Linked DNA regions of Homo sapiens. The protein of the gene in region 1 interacts with the protein of each later gene in a biochemical or structural test. Each region holds a gene or a part of one and is shown on either strand. Other genes may lie near its edges.

What was found.
Region 2: the proteins of SPAST (region 1) and DCAF8 form a complex in vitro, tested with the Homo sapiens proteins (one study listed by BioGRID and IntAct).

The regions. Positions count from the first base shown.
Region 1 is NC_000002.12:32,058,813-32,066,666, reverse strand, and holds the start of SPAST (spastin), read right to left. Parts: upstream 3,112-7,854; 5' UTR 2,836-3,111; coding exon 2,421-2,835; intron 1-2,420. UniProt on the Homo sapiens protein: ATP-dependent microtubule severing protein that specifically recognizes and cuts microtubules that are polyglutamylated.
Region 2 is NC_000001.11:160,224,382-160,231,653, forward strand, and holds part of DCAF8 (DDB1- and CUL4-associated factor 8), read right to left. Parts: intron 7,027-7,272; coding exon 6,916-7,026; intron 1,283-6,915; coding exon 1,210-1,282; intron 739-1,209; coding exon 681-738; intron 169-680; coding exon 61-168; intron 1-60. UniProt on the Homo sapiens protein: May function as a substrate receptor for CUL4-DDB1 E3 ubiquitin-protein ligase complex.

The DNA.
Region 1 (7,854 bases):
AGACGGAGTCTTGCTCTGCCGCCCAGGCTGGAGTGTAGTGGCACGATCTCGGCTCACTGCAACCTCCACCTTCCAGGTTCAAGCACTTCTCTTGCCTCAGCCTCCTGAGTAGCTGGGACTACAGGCATGTGTCACCATGCCCAGCTAATTTTTGTATTTTTAGTAGAGATGGGATTTCACCATGTTGGCCAGGATGGTCTCAAACTCTTGACCTCATGATCCACCCGCCCCGGCCTCCCAAAGTGTTGGGATTACACGCGTGAGCCACCATGACTGGCCCAAAAAATGATCTACGCTTAAACATGTTCCTCTATTCTAAAACTTTGCAACCGTTTTAATTCTCCCCAAGGGATCCTGGATGTTCTTAAGAGGTGATAAAGAATGGAGCTTGCTGGGTGGGCACAGTGGCTGACACCTGTAATCCAAGCACTTGGAAGGTCGAGGCAGGCGAATCACCTGAGGTCAGGAGTTCGTGACCAGTCTGGCCAACATGGTGAAACACCATCTCTACTAAAAATACAAAAAATTAGCCAGCCGTGATAGGGCGCACCTGTGGTTCCAGCTACTCGGGAGACTGAGGCAAGAGAATCGCCTGCGTCTGGGAGGCAGAGGTTGCAGTAAGCTGAGATCACGCCACTGCACTCCAGTCTGGGTGACACAGGGAGACTCCATCTCAAAAAAAAAAAAAAAAAAGAATGGAGCAGTTAACAAAAAATTTCCTTCTACAAACACATAGTATTCTTAAATGTTAACACCCTCCTTGACCTCTCTTAACCGTCACTCTTTCCTTACTGTCCAAAACAATGAATAACTGCCTCTTTCCTTATATCCCACTTCCCACTCCCAGGCCCCACAAAGGAAACAGGTTTCAACAAGATTGAAATTCTAGAACAGTTTTTGGAGTTGGCAGTAGAGACAGACACTATGAATGAAGTGCAGATTGTTTCTGTTTTCACTAATGGACAATGCAAGTGAGTATCTAATTGAGGTGTGGTAGAAAAGTGGGTGTTTTTGGCAGAGGGAGAAGCAAGATCTCAGCATACTGGAAGTAAGGATAAAAGGGGAGAATTGTAAAAGTTAGACTTCTCCTAATTTCACTTATTTTCCATAAAAGAAATTTCATTATTAGCACAGGTTTGGAATAACCTCCTTTATCTTTTGGGCCTCATTTTCTTCATCTCTAAAATGCTGATACCAATAATACCTTCATCTCACAAAGTTATTGTGAGGATTAAATAACACTTTTCATGGTCTGGGATGGTTGCTATTTTTTTTAAAAAGAAAAAAGATAACACATGCAAAGCTAATAGCACAATGCCTGGCACATATAATAAAAAATGTTAGCTTAAGGCCAGGCGCGGTGGCTCATGCCTGTATTACCAGCACTTTGGGAGGCCGAGGCGACCCGATCACGAGGTCAGGAGATGGAGACCATCCTGGCCAACATGGTGAAATCCCTACTCTACTAAAAATACAAAAATTAGCCAGGCGTGGTGGTGCGTGCCTGTAATCCCAGCTACTCGGGAGGCTGAGGCAGGAGAATCGCTGGAACCAGGGAGTCGGAGGTTGCAGTGAGCCGAGACTGCACCATTGCACTCCAGCTTGGGCGACAGGGCGAGATTCCGTCTCAAAAAAAAAAAAAAGTTAGCTTAAAAGAAACCCGAAAGATGTAGTATCCTTGCTTTCATTCAGAAACATACATAGTTGTTTTAGGTTTTACTGTAAAGTGGTATGTTTAAGTTTACGCAATCCATTCATCAAACATTTCAACTTGGAAATTAAAGGCTACTTTGGAATACTGTTTTAATTAAAATCAAAGCAACAGGGGGAAAAGTTTTATGCTAAATATAACTTCATTGAAAAAGTATTCAGGAATCGTTGTACTGATAAAATGATTATCTTGATTAAAATGATGCAAATTCAACTGCAGTCATATGCAGCTATTTCTTTCAAAATTGTCACCATTTGTTCTTTTTTTCTGACACTACAATACTCTGCTTTCATTAAAAGCCAGTAAGGCGGCACTGCTTCTTCAATATCAAAACCTTTTGGAAACCTTGGTTCAGAGGAAGCTGCACACTCTTCACAGTGCTAGAAAGGATCAGTGTGGTCACTCTAGGACAAATGTCACTGTCATCAACACGTCTGGGTGTCTCATAGTGACCTGGGTCATGCAGAAGTGTGGGGGAAGGCTGGTGTCTGAAACAAAGTCGACAGCTACAGTGCCCTGAAAGGGGAGAGGTTTTAAGAATACTAGAAGATGAGGCTCCGACCTACGGGAAAGCAGTCTCCCGGGGCATATCAATTCCGGGGGTGCACCGTCCCCTCCCGCAGAAAAGGGACGCAGGTGTTGCCCTCCCCCGGCGACCCCACCGCCTTCTTCCCGGCGCCGCCGCCCCCTCCCCCAGCCCCCTAGTTACCTTTCTCATCCTCATCGATGCGCAGGGCAATGGAGATGTACTCGAAGGCCTGTTTGTGGAAGACTCGGACGCGCTCGGCCTCGCCGCCCGGCACCGGCGCCGGGGCCGAGGCCGAGGCAGGTGCTGGCGCGGCCCCGGAGCTCCTCTTGGCTGCCATGAGGGCGCGGGAGAAGCGCTGGCAGAGCCACACGAAGAGGAGCCCCAGGTGGAAGGCGACCAAACGCAGCAGCGCGAAGCCTACAAACAGCGGGTAGGAGAAATAGTACAGGTTCCGCTTATGCGGCGACTCGGGCGGAGGGGCCGGCCCGGCGGCGGGAGGGGCGGGGGCCAGGCAAGGGGGCGGAGGCCTGGGAGGCACCGGGTTGCTGGCGCCGCCGGAGCCTTTCTTCTTCCCTCGTCCACCCGGAGAATTCATTCACAGCTCTCACTGCCGCCGCCGCCATAACCCGCCTCCCGCAGACCGACGGGAACCAAGCGACGGCGGCAGCCACTGCTACGGCGGGGGCCACAGACCCCCGTGTGCCCGCCGGTCTCAGGAGCTCCGCACTGCCGCACGCTGCCCGCCGGCCCCGCCCCTTTCTCCTTCCTCGGCCAGGAGCACAACCCCTTCTCCTCCTGCAGTCGGTGGCTCGGGCCCCTCCCTTCCTGTCGCTGTCCTCTCCGCCGCCTGGTGGCTCCCAGCGGCGGCCGCGCACGCGCACGTCTTCCCGTGTTTTTCTCCGGCGCGCGCGCGCACGGCGCGTCTTTGTTGACCGGGGCCCCTGTACGCGTGTGCGGCCCCCGCCTCTCGGCTTTCCCACTCAACTACAGTTCCCAATGTGCAGTTCGGCTCACGTCGGCAGCCCTGGAGAGCTCCTGCCAGGAAGCCTTCGTAATCGATCCACGGAAGGGGGAATTGCGGCTTGGGGTCGCTCTGCTGGTTCGCTAGGCTCCTCTCTCAGTGTCGTCGTTTTCTTAGATTTCTTTCATCTTTTTCTGCCAGGCGACCTAAGTCTTCTCCGAAGGATAATTGGCCCATCTCAGAAGCAATGGATATCAATCTGGGAATTAAATTAGCCGGGCGTGGGGGCGCGCGCCTGTAGTCCCAGCTGGTTGGAAGGCTAAGGCCGGAGAATCGCTTGAACTCGGGAGGCAGAGGCTGCAAGTGAGCTGAGATCGCGCCACTGCACTCCAGCCTGGGCGACAGAGCGAGACTCCGTCTCCAGAAAAAATAAAATAAAAATTTAAAATCTGGGAATTATTTGAGAGGAAAGCAATTGTGAAGATAAGAAACTTCAGGTCACTGCAAACAACAGCAACAAAAATGTTAGCTCAGTGTGATGAGATCAACTAACCCAGGGGTTTAACTAAATTAGTGCATATTTAGATGTCTAATATGAAAGATAATTTATTTGAATAAGGGAAATCTTAGGTTTTGCATAGTTACCATCCCATAGTTTACTGAAGAATCTACACTTTTTTTTTAATCTACTCAGCATCCCTTCCTTTGGGAAACTACCTGCTTGTCTCTGCTCCCTGTATTCTAATGAGCTGCAAGCACAGAACCCAGACCGCAAAGGCGGAAGCAAACACTAGGTCAGTCAGATTCTCCTGGGACCTGGAATCTTGGCTGGAGACCCACCGAATAGAAAGTAACTGGAAACGAGTGCTCTTAAGAGCGGGTTTATCAATGCATCACATTGAGCTCCCCCAGAGCTGCTGGGTTCCTGACTGGTCACTTGGTTATGTAATCTATCCAATACACTAATCAGTCTGTTTCTCTGTTTCTCTCTTCCTCTCTCCTTTCCCCCTTCCTTCCTTTCGTCTTTTCCTCTCTCTCCCTCTCTCTCTATCTCCACGTCTTTTTTCTCTTCTCTTTCTCTTTTTACTTGAGTTAGCCATAATTATTTCTTGTTTCCTAAAACTAAGGAAGCCAAACTGATAAAAAGACTCCGTTATTTACAATGTGAGGTTTCCAAATGCCCCATGAGAGCTTCCAGCTTCCAAGAATCTCCACATTCTGCCACAGCTTTATTTTTTTATTTTTTGGACAGGGTTTCACTCCATTGCCCAGGCTGGAGTGCAGTGGCGCAAACAACATGACTCACTGCAACCTCCACCTCCCTGGCTCAGGTGATCCTTCCACCTCAGCCTCCCGAGTAGCTGGGATCACAGGCACACGCCACTGGGCCCGACTAATTTTTGTATTCTTTATAGAGCCAGGGTTTCACCATGTTGCCCAGGCTGGTCTCCAACTCCTGGGCTCAAGCAATCCGCCTGCCTCAGCCTTCCAAAGTGTTGGGATTACAGGCATGAGCCACCCCATCGCGCCCCCAGCTAATTTTTTTACTTTTTTGTTGAGACAGGGTCTTGCTATGTTTCCCAGGTTGGTCTTGAATTCCTGGGCTCAAGCAACCTGCCCGCCTCGGCCTCCCAAAGTGCTGGGATTACAGGCATGAGCCACAGCACCAGCCAATTTTACTTAATTATTCCCCGCCAGTACTGCCCTACAAATGTCACAGGCTATTGCAAAAATGACCTACTCCCTGTTTCCCTCTTATTGCTCCCCCTTCTCTGTGCTTATGCTAGACCCTCATTCTGAAATGCCCTCTTTCGGCCGGGTGTGGTGGCTCACGCCTGTAATCCCAGAACTTTGGGAGCCGAGGCGAGCAGATCACCGGAGGTCAGGAGTTCAAGAGCAGCCTGGCTAACATGGCAAAACTCCCTCTATACTAAAAATACAAAAGTTAGACAGGTGCATTCCTGTGGTGGTGGTGCATTCCTGTAATCTCAACTAGTGCGAGGCTGAGGCAGGAGAATCACTTGAACCTGGGAGGCTGAGGCCGCGGTGAGCCAAGATCATGCCAATGCACTGCAGCCTGGGCGACAGAGCGAGACTCTGTCTCAAAAGCAAACAACAAAAAATTTTTTTTAATGAAATGCCCTCTTTTAAATCTGATTCAGGGCCTGGCACGGTGGCTCACACCTGTAATCCCAACACTTTGGGAGGCCAAGGCAGGCGGATCACCTGAGGTCGGGAGTTCGAGACCAGCCTGACCAACATGGAGAAACCCTTTCTCTATTAAAAATACAAAACTAGCCGGGCATGGTGGCGCATGCCTGTAATCCCAGCTACTCGGGAGGCTGAGGCAGGAGAATCACTTGAACCCAGGAAGTGGAGGTTGCAGTGAGCCAAGATAGTGCCATTGCACTCCAGCCTGGGCAACAAGAGCGAAACTCCATCTCAAAAAAAAAAATTACATTTATACATATATCATATAAACAAGAAGTGTGTTACTTAAATGCACAATTTAAAGAAAAATAATAAGCAGCATTCCATTTAAGAAAAATGAATGTAACCAACTCCTCGAAGCACTCTGTGAGCTCCTCCCTAATCTCAATGTCTTGTCTCTTCCTCTAGAGGAAGCCACTATCCTGAATTTTATATTAATCATTCTAGTGTCTCATTTTTAGTTTGCAGTGTATTTATGTATTTCTAAACAATGTCTTGTATGATTTTGCCTCACTTTGACTTTATGGAAATGTAATCATATTTCAAGTATCCCTTGTTTGCTTTCCCTCCTCAAAATTTTTAAAATTTCATTTATTTTATTTTAAGAAAATAGAGATGGAGTCTCACTGTTGCCCAGGTTGATCTCGAACCCCTGGGCTCAAGTAATCCTCCTGTCTTGGTCTCCCAAAGTGCTGGGATTACAGGCATAAACCGCTATGCCTGGCTACCTACTTAATAATTAAGTGTTGAAATTCCTCCCTGTTGATTTCTATAACTGTGGTACATTTTCACTGCTATATAGTATTCCATTATATGAATTTACCACAACCTATTTTACTGTTCAACTATTGATGGATATTTAGTTTGATGCCAGTTTTTTTTCTTAAATAACTATCTTCCCTGTTATCCCTCCAGTCTTTACCACTAAAGAAAGTAACTTACTTTCTAACTTAGCCAAGATAGGGCCCAATAGTAGAATGGTTAAATGGTCCTGGAGTCAGACTGGTTGCATTTAGATCTGTGTTCCATCACTTTCGGTGATCTTGGATGAGTTACTCAGCTTCCACATCTACAGTATAACACTAGAGTAGTAAGCAGTGCCTGGAATCAAGTTGATACTTGATTATTTTTTTATTTTTTGTTTTTTTTAATTTTTTTAAATTATCTATTTTTTGTTTTAAAAGTTCTTTTGTAGAGACAAGGTCTCTCTCACCGTGTTGCCCAAGCCAGTTTTGAACTCCAGCCCTCAAGCAATCCTCCCACTTCAGCCTTCCAAAGTGCTAGGATTACAGGCATGAGCCACCATGTTCAGTTTATTTCTATTTTTATTTTATTTTTTACTCACCATGATACTAACAAGGAGATTTGTTGGTTTTTTGTTTTTGTTTTTGTTTTTGAGACAAGGTCTCACTCTGTCACCCAAGCTGGAGTACAGTGGCGCCATCAGAGCTCACTGCAGCCTTGACCTCCCTGGCTCAAACCACCCTCTTGCCTCAGCCTCCTGAGTAACTGGGACTACAGGCATGCACCACCATGCTGGGGTAGTTTTTTTTAAAATTTATTTATTTTTTAAGATGGAGTCTCGCTCTGTCGCCAGACTGGAGTGCAGTGGTGCGATCTCGGCTCACTGCAACCTCCGACTCCCTGGTTCAAGCGATTCTCCTGCCTCAGCCTCCCGAGTAGCTGGGATTACAGGGATGTGCCACCATGCCCAGCTAATTTTGTATTTTTAATAGAGATGGGGTTTCTCCATGTTGTCCAGGAGGGTCTTGATCTCCTGACCTCGTGATCCGCCCGCCTCAGCCTACCAAAGTTCTGGGATTACAGGTGTGAGCCACTGCATCTGTCTGAATTTTTTGTTTTTTAGTTGAGATGAGGTCTCACTATGTTGCCCCAGATGGTCTTGAATTCCTGAGCTCAAGTGATCCACTCACCTTGACCTCCCAAAATGCTGGGATTACAGGCATGAGCCACTATGCTTGGCCATGAGGAAGATAGTTTTTGAATAAAGAATGGTTCTCCGACATTTCCTCTGCACTTTCACTATACTCTAGCTAATATAGACTGTTGGTCTGTACCTACTTTGCTCTTTTCCAGGACTACAATTACTCTCCTGTCATTTTTCATTCACTTAGAATGGCCTCGCCTCCTACTTCCACTGTCAAAGTCCTTCAAGACTTACCTCTAATGTTATATTTTTTTTTTTTTTTTTTTTTTTGAGACTGAGTCTCACTCTGTCACCCAGGCTGGAGTGCCATGGCACGATCTCAGCTCAATGCAACCTCTGCTTCCCATGTTCAAGTGGTTCTCCTGCCTCAGCCTCCTGAGTAGCTGCGACTACAGACGCGTGCCACCACGCCCGGCTAATTTCTTGTATTTTTAGTAGAGACGGGTTCATCGTGTTAGCCAGGATGGTCTCGAACTCCTGACCTTGTGATCCAC
Region 2 (7,272 bases), on another chromosome or scaffold:
CACTGTGGTTCTCCAAAGCCAACAGGCTTGGGCCAAAGAAACCTAGGAAGACAGTCTCACCTGTGGCATTATTTCTGTGGCCCTTGTATCTCTTAACATACTGGGCCCCATCACTGTGAGAGGAGTTGAAGAGGTAAATGTCTTCATCATTGTAACTGGCCAGGAGCTCTGCCAAGAACAAGAACATAGCAGTGAAGGCAAAGGCTGAAAAAAGCAGGGACCAGGAGGTGGGGGTTGGGGTGGGGCTTCTTGCCAGTAGTGCCCCCTCCAAATACCCAGGTGTAGCACCCATCTTATTTGGAACACCAGGCAAGTCCGACTGTACAGGGTAGACTAAGAACACACTGCCAACCCAGGGGCAGCAGAATGCTCAAAAAGGTCATACCCATTAACTCAGGAATGAGTCAAAGGCATAAGAACCTGCTCAGGCAAGCAACCTGGGCTTCAGGACAGGCCCTGCCAAATATCATCTGCAGCATTCTGCAAATGGTACCTGGCATCTCCAAGGGTCATCTACTGTATCCTCCCGCTATGTGCTCACCATCAGCAGTTACTCCCCAGCTGCTCTACTTGGAGCTATAGCACAGTGGTGAGCACTGGAGGGCACATGCCTCACTGGCTCAGCAGCTCCCTAGACAGAGGGGGCATGCCAGCCTAGGAGCTGGGCCCTGCTCACGTACCTGTGCCGTCGTGGCTGTACACAAGACAGGTGATGTTTGCTTTGGACTCACTGTTCACCTGCAATAAGGAGCAGATACTGACTGATGCCCCACCCCCCCATTTGTTATACCATCTTCAGGAAACAGCTTTTCCTTCAAACTCCCCTATATCTTCTCCCAGAGATTTGAGAAAGACAGACAGAGACAAGAGTACAACTGATGAAACATGACCACCTCAGGGGGTAGCATCTTGGGGCTTTCTTTTGGTTGTCATCCATGTGCTAGCCATTTTATGTACACTGTCTCATTAGGCCTCACCATCAAGGTGCAAGGCAGTTATTTTTATTTCTATTTTGTCGATTAAAAAACTGAGGCTATCAGAAGTGAAGTGACTGCCAAGATCACAAAGCTGGTAAGTGGTAAAGCCAGGATTCAAATCCAGATGACTGACTTGAAAGTCCAAGCTCTTCCCACCATACCAACAAGTTCAGGTGCAGCCTTGGGGTTGAGTCAGGGAAGCCTGCAGCAACTGGCCCTTCATGAATCTTACCAGGTGATGAGGACAGAACTTCTTGAGTACTCCATTGTTCTCATTCTCATCAATTTTCCTCTGGTCATAAATCCTACAGTTGGAAAAGCAATGAAAATGTAAAAATGTACAAACGAAACCCTTGAAGAGCTGCAATTTGATGTAGTGGCAGGAAACTGCCAGCTGGATGCAGATAAACAACATTTTCCAAACCAAGCTTTTGGTTTGTGCTCTTCCTTAAAGGGCATCCCTTTTCCAATCCATTTCCAAACCCTAAATCTTTTGTTTGTTTGAGATGGGGTCCTGCTCTGTCACCCAGGCTGTAGTGCAGTGGCATGACCCCGGCTCACTGCAACCTCCGCCTCATGGGTTCAAGCAATTCTCTTGCCTCAGCCTCCTAAATAGCTGGGACTATGGGCACACACCACCACGCCCGGCCAATTTTTGTATTTTTAGTAGAGACAGAGTTTCATCTGTTGGCCAGGCAAACCCTTAAATCCTTTATCCACATACTTCCCATTTTAAGTGGCAATCCTCAATTCTGTCAGTTTGAAGTGGTTTATCTCTCTCCTCAAGTTTTATATCACATACTGCTACTTTTCACTGAAACAACTAACATTAGTATGGAGCTTTTTACATGTACATTACCTACCGAAAAAGGTTACTCACGGGCAGAAACCATGCTTAATGTAAGTCAATGGGTCTGTAATCCCTCCTTAAAACTGTATTTGGCCTGTTCTCCCTCTCATACCCCACAATAATTATTAAAAACTACCACCCATATCCTCAAGACTCCCTCTCCTTTCCTCATTCTTATCAAGCACACTACACCTTCACCTTCCTTCCTCTCTCTAATCCAAGCTTTAAACTCATGAGGACACACATATTATGTGTCAAATATTATGCTAGGTGCTAGAAATACAGTGAGGAACAAGACAGATCCAGTATCTGTTCTCACCCAGTCTCCTCCAATCTCAGAGCCAATCTCTTGAAAAATGCTTTTCATTTCATCCTTCCAGGGACCTTGTTTGATGATTATCTAATTTCTCAACCTCTTCCTCATCACCAGCTGGCCACTTTCTAAAAATCCTTCTGCTGACTGTCCTTTCCTACTATTGCTTTTTTTCTCCTTCCCCTTACAGTTACACTACTGAAAAGAACAATCAACATTCAATATTTCCACTTTCTTACTTCCTATTCACTTCTCAGTCCATCCTAATCTGGTTTTGGTTCTCAACTCACCACTGAGACTTCTCTGGCTGAAGTCATCAGTTAATTATATCCATTTGTTAAGTAGGTGTAAGTCTAGAGTTCAGAATAAGTGTGGTCTGCAGACACAGATGTAAGTCATATATCCGTGTGAAAGGTGGTAGTTAAAGCATTGGTAATGGAATTAGATCTCCAAGGGAAAATACAGAGAAGATTTTCCCTTCGCCCTTTAGAATCTCTGGCCTGTTTCAGAATATAATGAAAACTCTAGTCCCTTCTCCCCAGAAAAATGCACATAAGCATACTTTCTGGAGGTTCACATAATATTTGTACTTCAAGTTAAAATTCCCTGGTATAGAGTAAGATGAGAGCTGAAGACTGAGCTACTGGAGAACATCAGCATTTAATGGGTGGAGAAAGGAAGACACACCCATGAACAACACTGAGGAGTGGTTGGACATCAAGGAGAGAAGGTGCTTCAGGGAAGGAGTAATAATGTCAAGAGTAGAGAAAAAGACTTGAAAAGTACTTTGTTTGCTTTGGCAGTTAGGTTACTGATGACTTAAGCCTTGACATCCCCAGCTCACACGATCCTCCCGCCTCAACCTGCCGCGTAGCTGGGACTACAGGCACACACCACCATGCTGAGCTAATATTTTTATTTTTTGGTGGAGACAGCATCTGCCCAGCTTGGTCTCAAACTCCTGGCCTCAAAAGATTCTCCTGCCTCAGCCTCCCAAAGTGCTGGGATTACAGGTATAAGCCACTACACCCCAACTAAGTGTTTATTAATAGCTTACTATATTCTACATATGATGCTAGAACGGAGTTTGGCAAACTTTTTCTTAAAGGACAAGACAGTAAATGTTTTAAGCTGGTAAACTGGCAAACCATCTAATCTCTATTAAAACTATTGAATTCTGCCATTGTAGCATGAAAGTGGTCATAAACAACATGTAAAGTAAGGCCATGGCTGTGTTCCAATAAAACTTTATTTATAAAAACAAGCACTACAGTTTGTCAAGCCCTGTGATAGACAGTAAGCATAGAAAGATTAATACAAACTTTCCTACCACTTTCTGAACATATGATAGGCCCTTGATAGTTTATATTTTACTTTTAGTTATTTTTTTTGAGACAGGGTCTCACTCTGTCATCCAGGATGGAGTGCAGTGGTGTAATCACAGCTCACTGTAGCCTCAAACTCCTGGGCTCAAGAGATCCTCCTCTGCCTCCCAAGTAGTTGGGACTACAGGAGCATACCACCACACCTGGAGATATTTAATTAATTAAAAAATTAAAATTTTTTCTTAATTTTTTTTTTTTTTGGTAGAGACACAGTCTTGCTATATTGCCCAAGTTGGCCTTGAACTTCTGACCTCAAGCTATCCTCCAGCTTTGGCCTTCCAAAGTGCTCTAGTTTTATAGTCATGAGCCACCACACCAAGCCCCTTGACATTTTAAGTCACGTAAGGAATAGTGTGCACACCTTTACCACATCTCTTCCCACATGCCTTCAGGCACCCACTAACTTGTTACCCTAAGTCTCTCTTCTATACCTGCCTTTAATCTAATGTTCTCTCAGTGTTGCTGATGTTGGCTTAAGAACTGGGGAATGAAGAGATGATTTACTGACTGTGCTTCATCAATCAGGGCCTATACTTAATCCTTTAGCAATAAATTTTCATGTCAGCCAAATTTACCACTAAAGGATTCACCTGATATATTCTCTTTTTCTTTACCCCTATAAATTCTTAAAACTAAGCTAAGCAGGAATTAGCTTAGCTTAGCAGGTGTAGTAGGGACTCACACCTATACCTCCTCTACTTACCTTTTTTTTTTTTTTGGCCACAGGCCAAAAAGCATGTCTCCCCAGAGCTTCCCTTAAATACTTTTTAATAACCCTAAACTAAAATTCAGTATTAATGATGCAAAAGCCTTGAGGATCAGTAAGCTATTTCTCTATATTCCCTTGAAGTAATTCCTTTAGGCTAGGAGTGAAAGTTAATGATGTTATGATATATAATATTCAGCAAAAATGTTTTCAAATTTATACCAGAAGATGAGCTGTTTGGGTTCTTTCAAAGGAAGAATAAGAAAGGAGAAACCTCAAAACATTCAGTTGGCTGCACAGGAGAGGTGCCAGAGAAGTTGAGTGTAACCTAATGTCAGAGAAGAGCTGGAGTGCTGAAAGGGCTACCTGCTTGTGTAGGATCAGCGTGCCTCAAAATCTTCACATAGCCAGGCGCGGTGGCTCACGACTGTAATCCCAGCACTTTGAGAGGCCGAGGTGGGTGGATCACTTGAAGACAGTTCGAGACCAGCCTGGCCAACATGGCAAAACCGTATCTCTACTAAAAATACAAAAATAGCCAGGCAAAGTGGCACATGCCTGTAATCCCAGCTACTTGGGAGGCTGAGGCATGAGAATCACTTGAACCCAGGAGGCAGAGGTTGCAGTGAGCCGAGATCGAGCCACTACACTCCAGCCTGGGCAACAAAGTGAGACTCTGTCTCAAAAAAAAAACAAAAATCTTCACATAACTTCTGCCCAGTAAATAGCCAATAGAGGAATATTGAGGCTGATAAGACACAGAAGATTTGAGTATTTCTCCTTGTGTTGAAATGCTAAAACTCTAAGCCTTACTCTAACCCTGGGAAAGTATCAGCTTTGGGTTAAGGCAATATGATATACATATCATATGAATACATATGAATACATACATACATATGAATACAGTTCTCAATACAGCAAACTACTACATTCCCCTCCAAACATCTTGGTCCTAGTGGTGGAATTTGTTAGAGACACAGACTTTTCAAGTAATCTGGAGCTCTAAGTAGGAACTCTCAACTCAAAATTTCAGTGAATGCTCAACTTGGAGGAGGTAGCAACTGAAAATCTATACAAACTACAACCCTTTTTGATCAACAGCTTCTTATTTAAAAATAAAAAAAATTGGCCAGGCACAGTGGCTCATGCCTGCAATCCCAGCACTTTGGGAGGCCAAGGCGGGCAGATCACCTGAGGTCAGGAGTTCGAGACTAGCCTGGCTAACACGGTGAGACCTCGGTTCTACTGAAAATACAAAAAATTAGCCAGGCGTGGTGGCGTGCACCTGTAATCCCAGCTACTCGGGAGGCTGAGGCAGGAGAATCGCTTGAACCCGGGAAGCGGAGGTTGCAGTGAGCCAAGATTGTGTCACTGCACTCCAGCATGGGTAATAAGAGTAAAACTCTGTCTAAAAAAAAAAATCTATGGCTACACATTTAAGGACTGTTGGTGACTAGAGGAAACGAATTTTGAAGGCATGGGAATAGGGGAAGAAGAGAGAAACAAGGTTTTGTCCAGGATTCTTGAACAAGGCAAAGTCATCTCATGTATTTTCTAAAAATTTACCCTATTCCCCATGATTCTTATTAATAAAATGAATCTGGAAATATAGCTATAAAATGTGCTCTCATTTCAAAAGGAAGATGATGCTTTTCACTTACCATTAGGAAAGCAAAAAGTCACTCATTTTTCTAGTGATCTTGCCCCTCTCTCTCCTTTCAAACTGATGAGCCCAAAGAAACATAGTTAAAATAGGCCAACTGGATAGGGATGGATACAGCTTATTACTAAGGGTCAGAGGAAATTAACTAATACATATGGAGACTGAATCCACAGTGTCTGTTTTCCTTAGGTCATGTCTCAAGAGCCAGTGTTAACAAAAGGTGTTCACGGTAACAAAGATATCACTATGGATAAAAAAAAGTGGTAGCTCAGGACAGTGAGAGCCAAAAAACCCTCAGTTCACACTAAGTGCTCCCAAGTCAAACTATTTCTGAATTGAAAACCAGTATTTAAAATTTCTAGTGCACGTTTATTTACATACGAAAAAGGTAGATTATTTACTAATATAGTACTTGCTGGTAAACCTAAATTTATGGCTTAGCTGCCACGTGAGGACCTTGGTCAATTCATCTAACTTCTTTTCTTTTCTTTTTTGAGACAGAGTCTCGCTCTGTCATTCAGGCTGGAGTGCAGTGGCACAATCTTGGCTCATTGCAACCTCTGACTCCTGAGCTCAAGTGATCCTCCTGCCTCAGCCTCTTGAGCAGCTGGGACTACACGCATGTACCACCATGCCTGGCTAATTTTTGTATTTTTTTTTTTAGAGACAGAGTTTTGCCATGTTGGCCAGGCTGGTCCCAAACTCCTGTCCTTAGGTGATCCACCCGCCTCACCTCCCAAAGTGTCGAGATTACAGGTGTGAGCCACTACACCTGACCATCATCTAACTTCTTTAAAACTTGATAATCTCTAAAATATGTAAAGTCACCCCTCAGAGACTGTTACATTAGAGAACAGAACATCTCCAAAGGCGTGTAAGATTTTTGGAAAACGGTAAAAAATTCAAGATAATAGTTAATGGATTCCTATAAAATTCGTAACTCTCCATAAAGGAGCACCTGGTAGTATACAATGCATCAGTCTTACAAACTGTCAAAGACACAAAAGAGCCACAAACTCACCTTACAAACTGATCTCGTCCACCCACTGCAAACTGGTGGGTATTGGCAGGATTCACATAGATCGTATACAGCCCCACTTTCTTCTCTTTCTCTTTTGTCACCACCAGTTTCCTTTAAGAGTAGAAAAGCACAGAAAGTTATATACTCCAAAAGATCCAAATGGTCATGGCAAAGGAGAGCCAAGAGAGTCACATGGCTAATAAGAAACCAAAGAGATTCTCATTTGGAAAGAAAGAATTGTTGTGTTTTCTCTGTTTGTTTTGTACGTAACAACAGGAAAAAAGCACATACATTTATTATATGGGACTTTGGGGATTGGGGAAAAAAATATGTAGTGAAGTCACTTTCTAGTGTTCC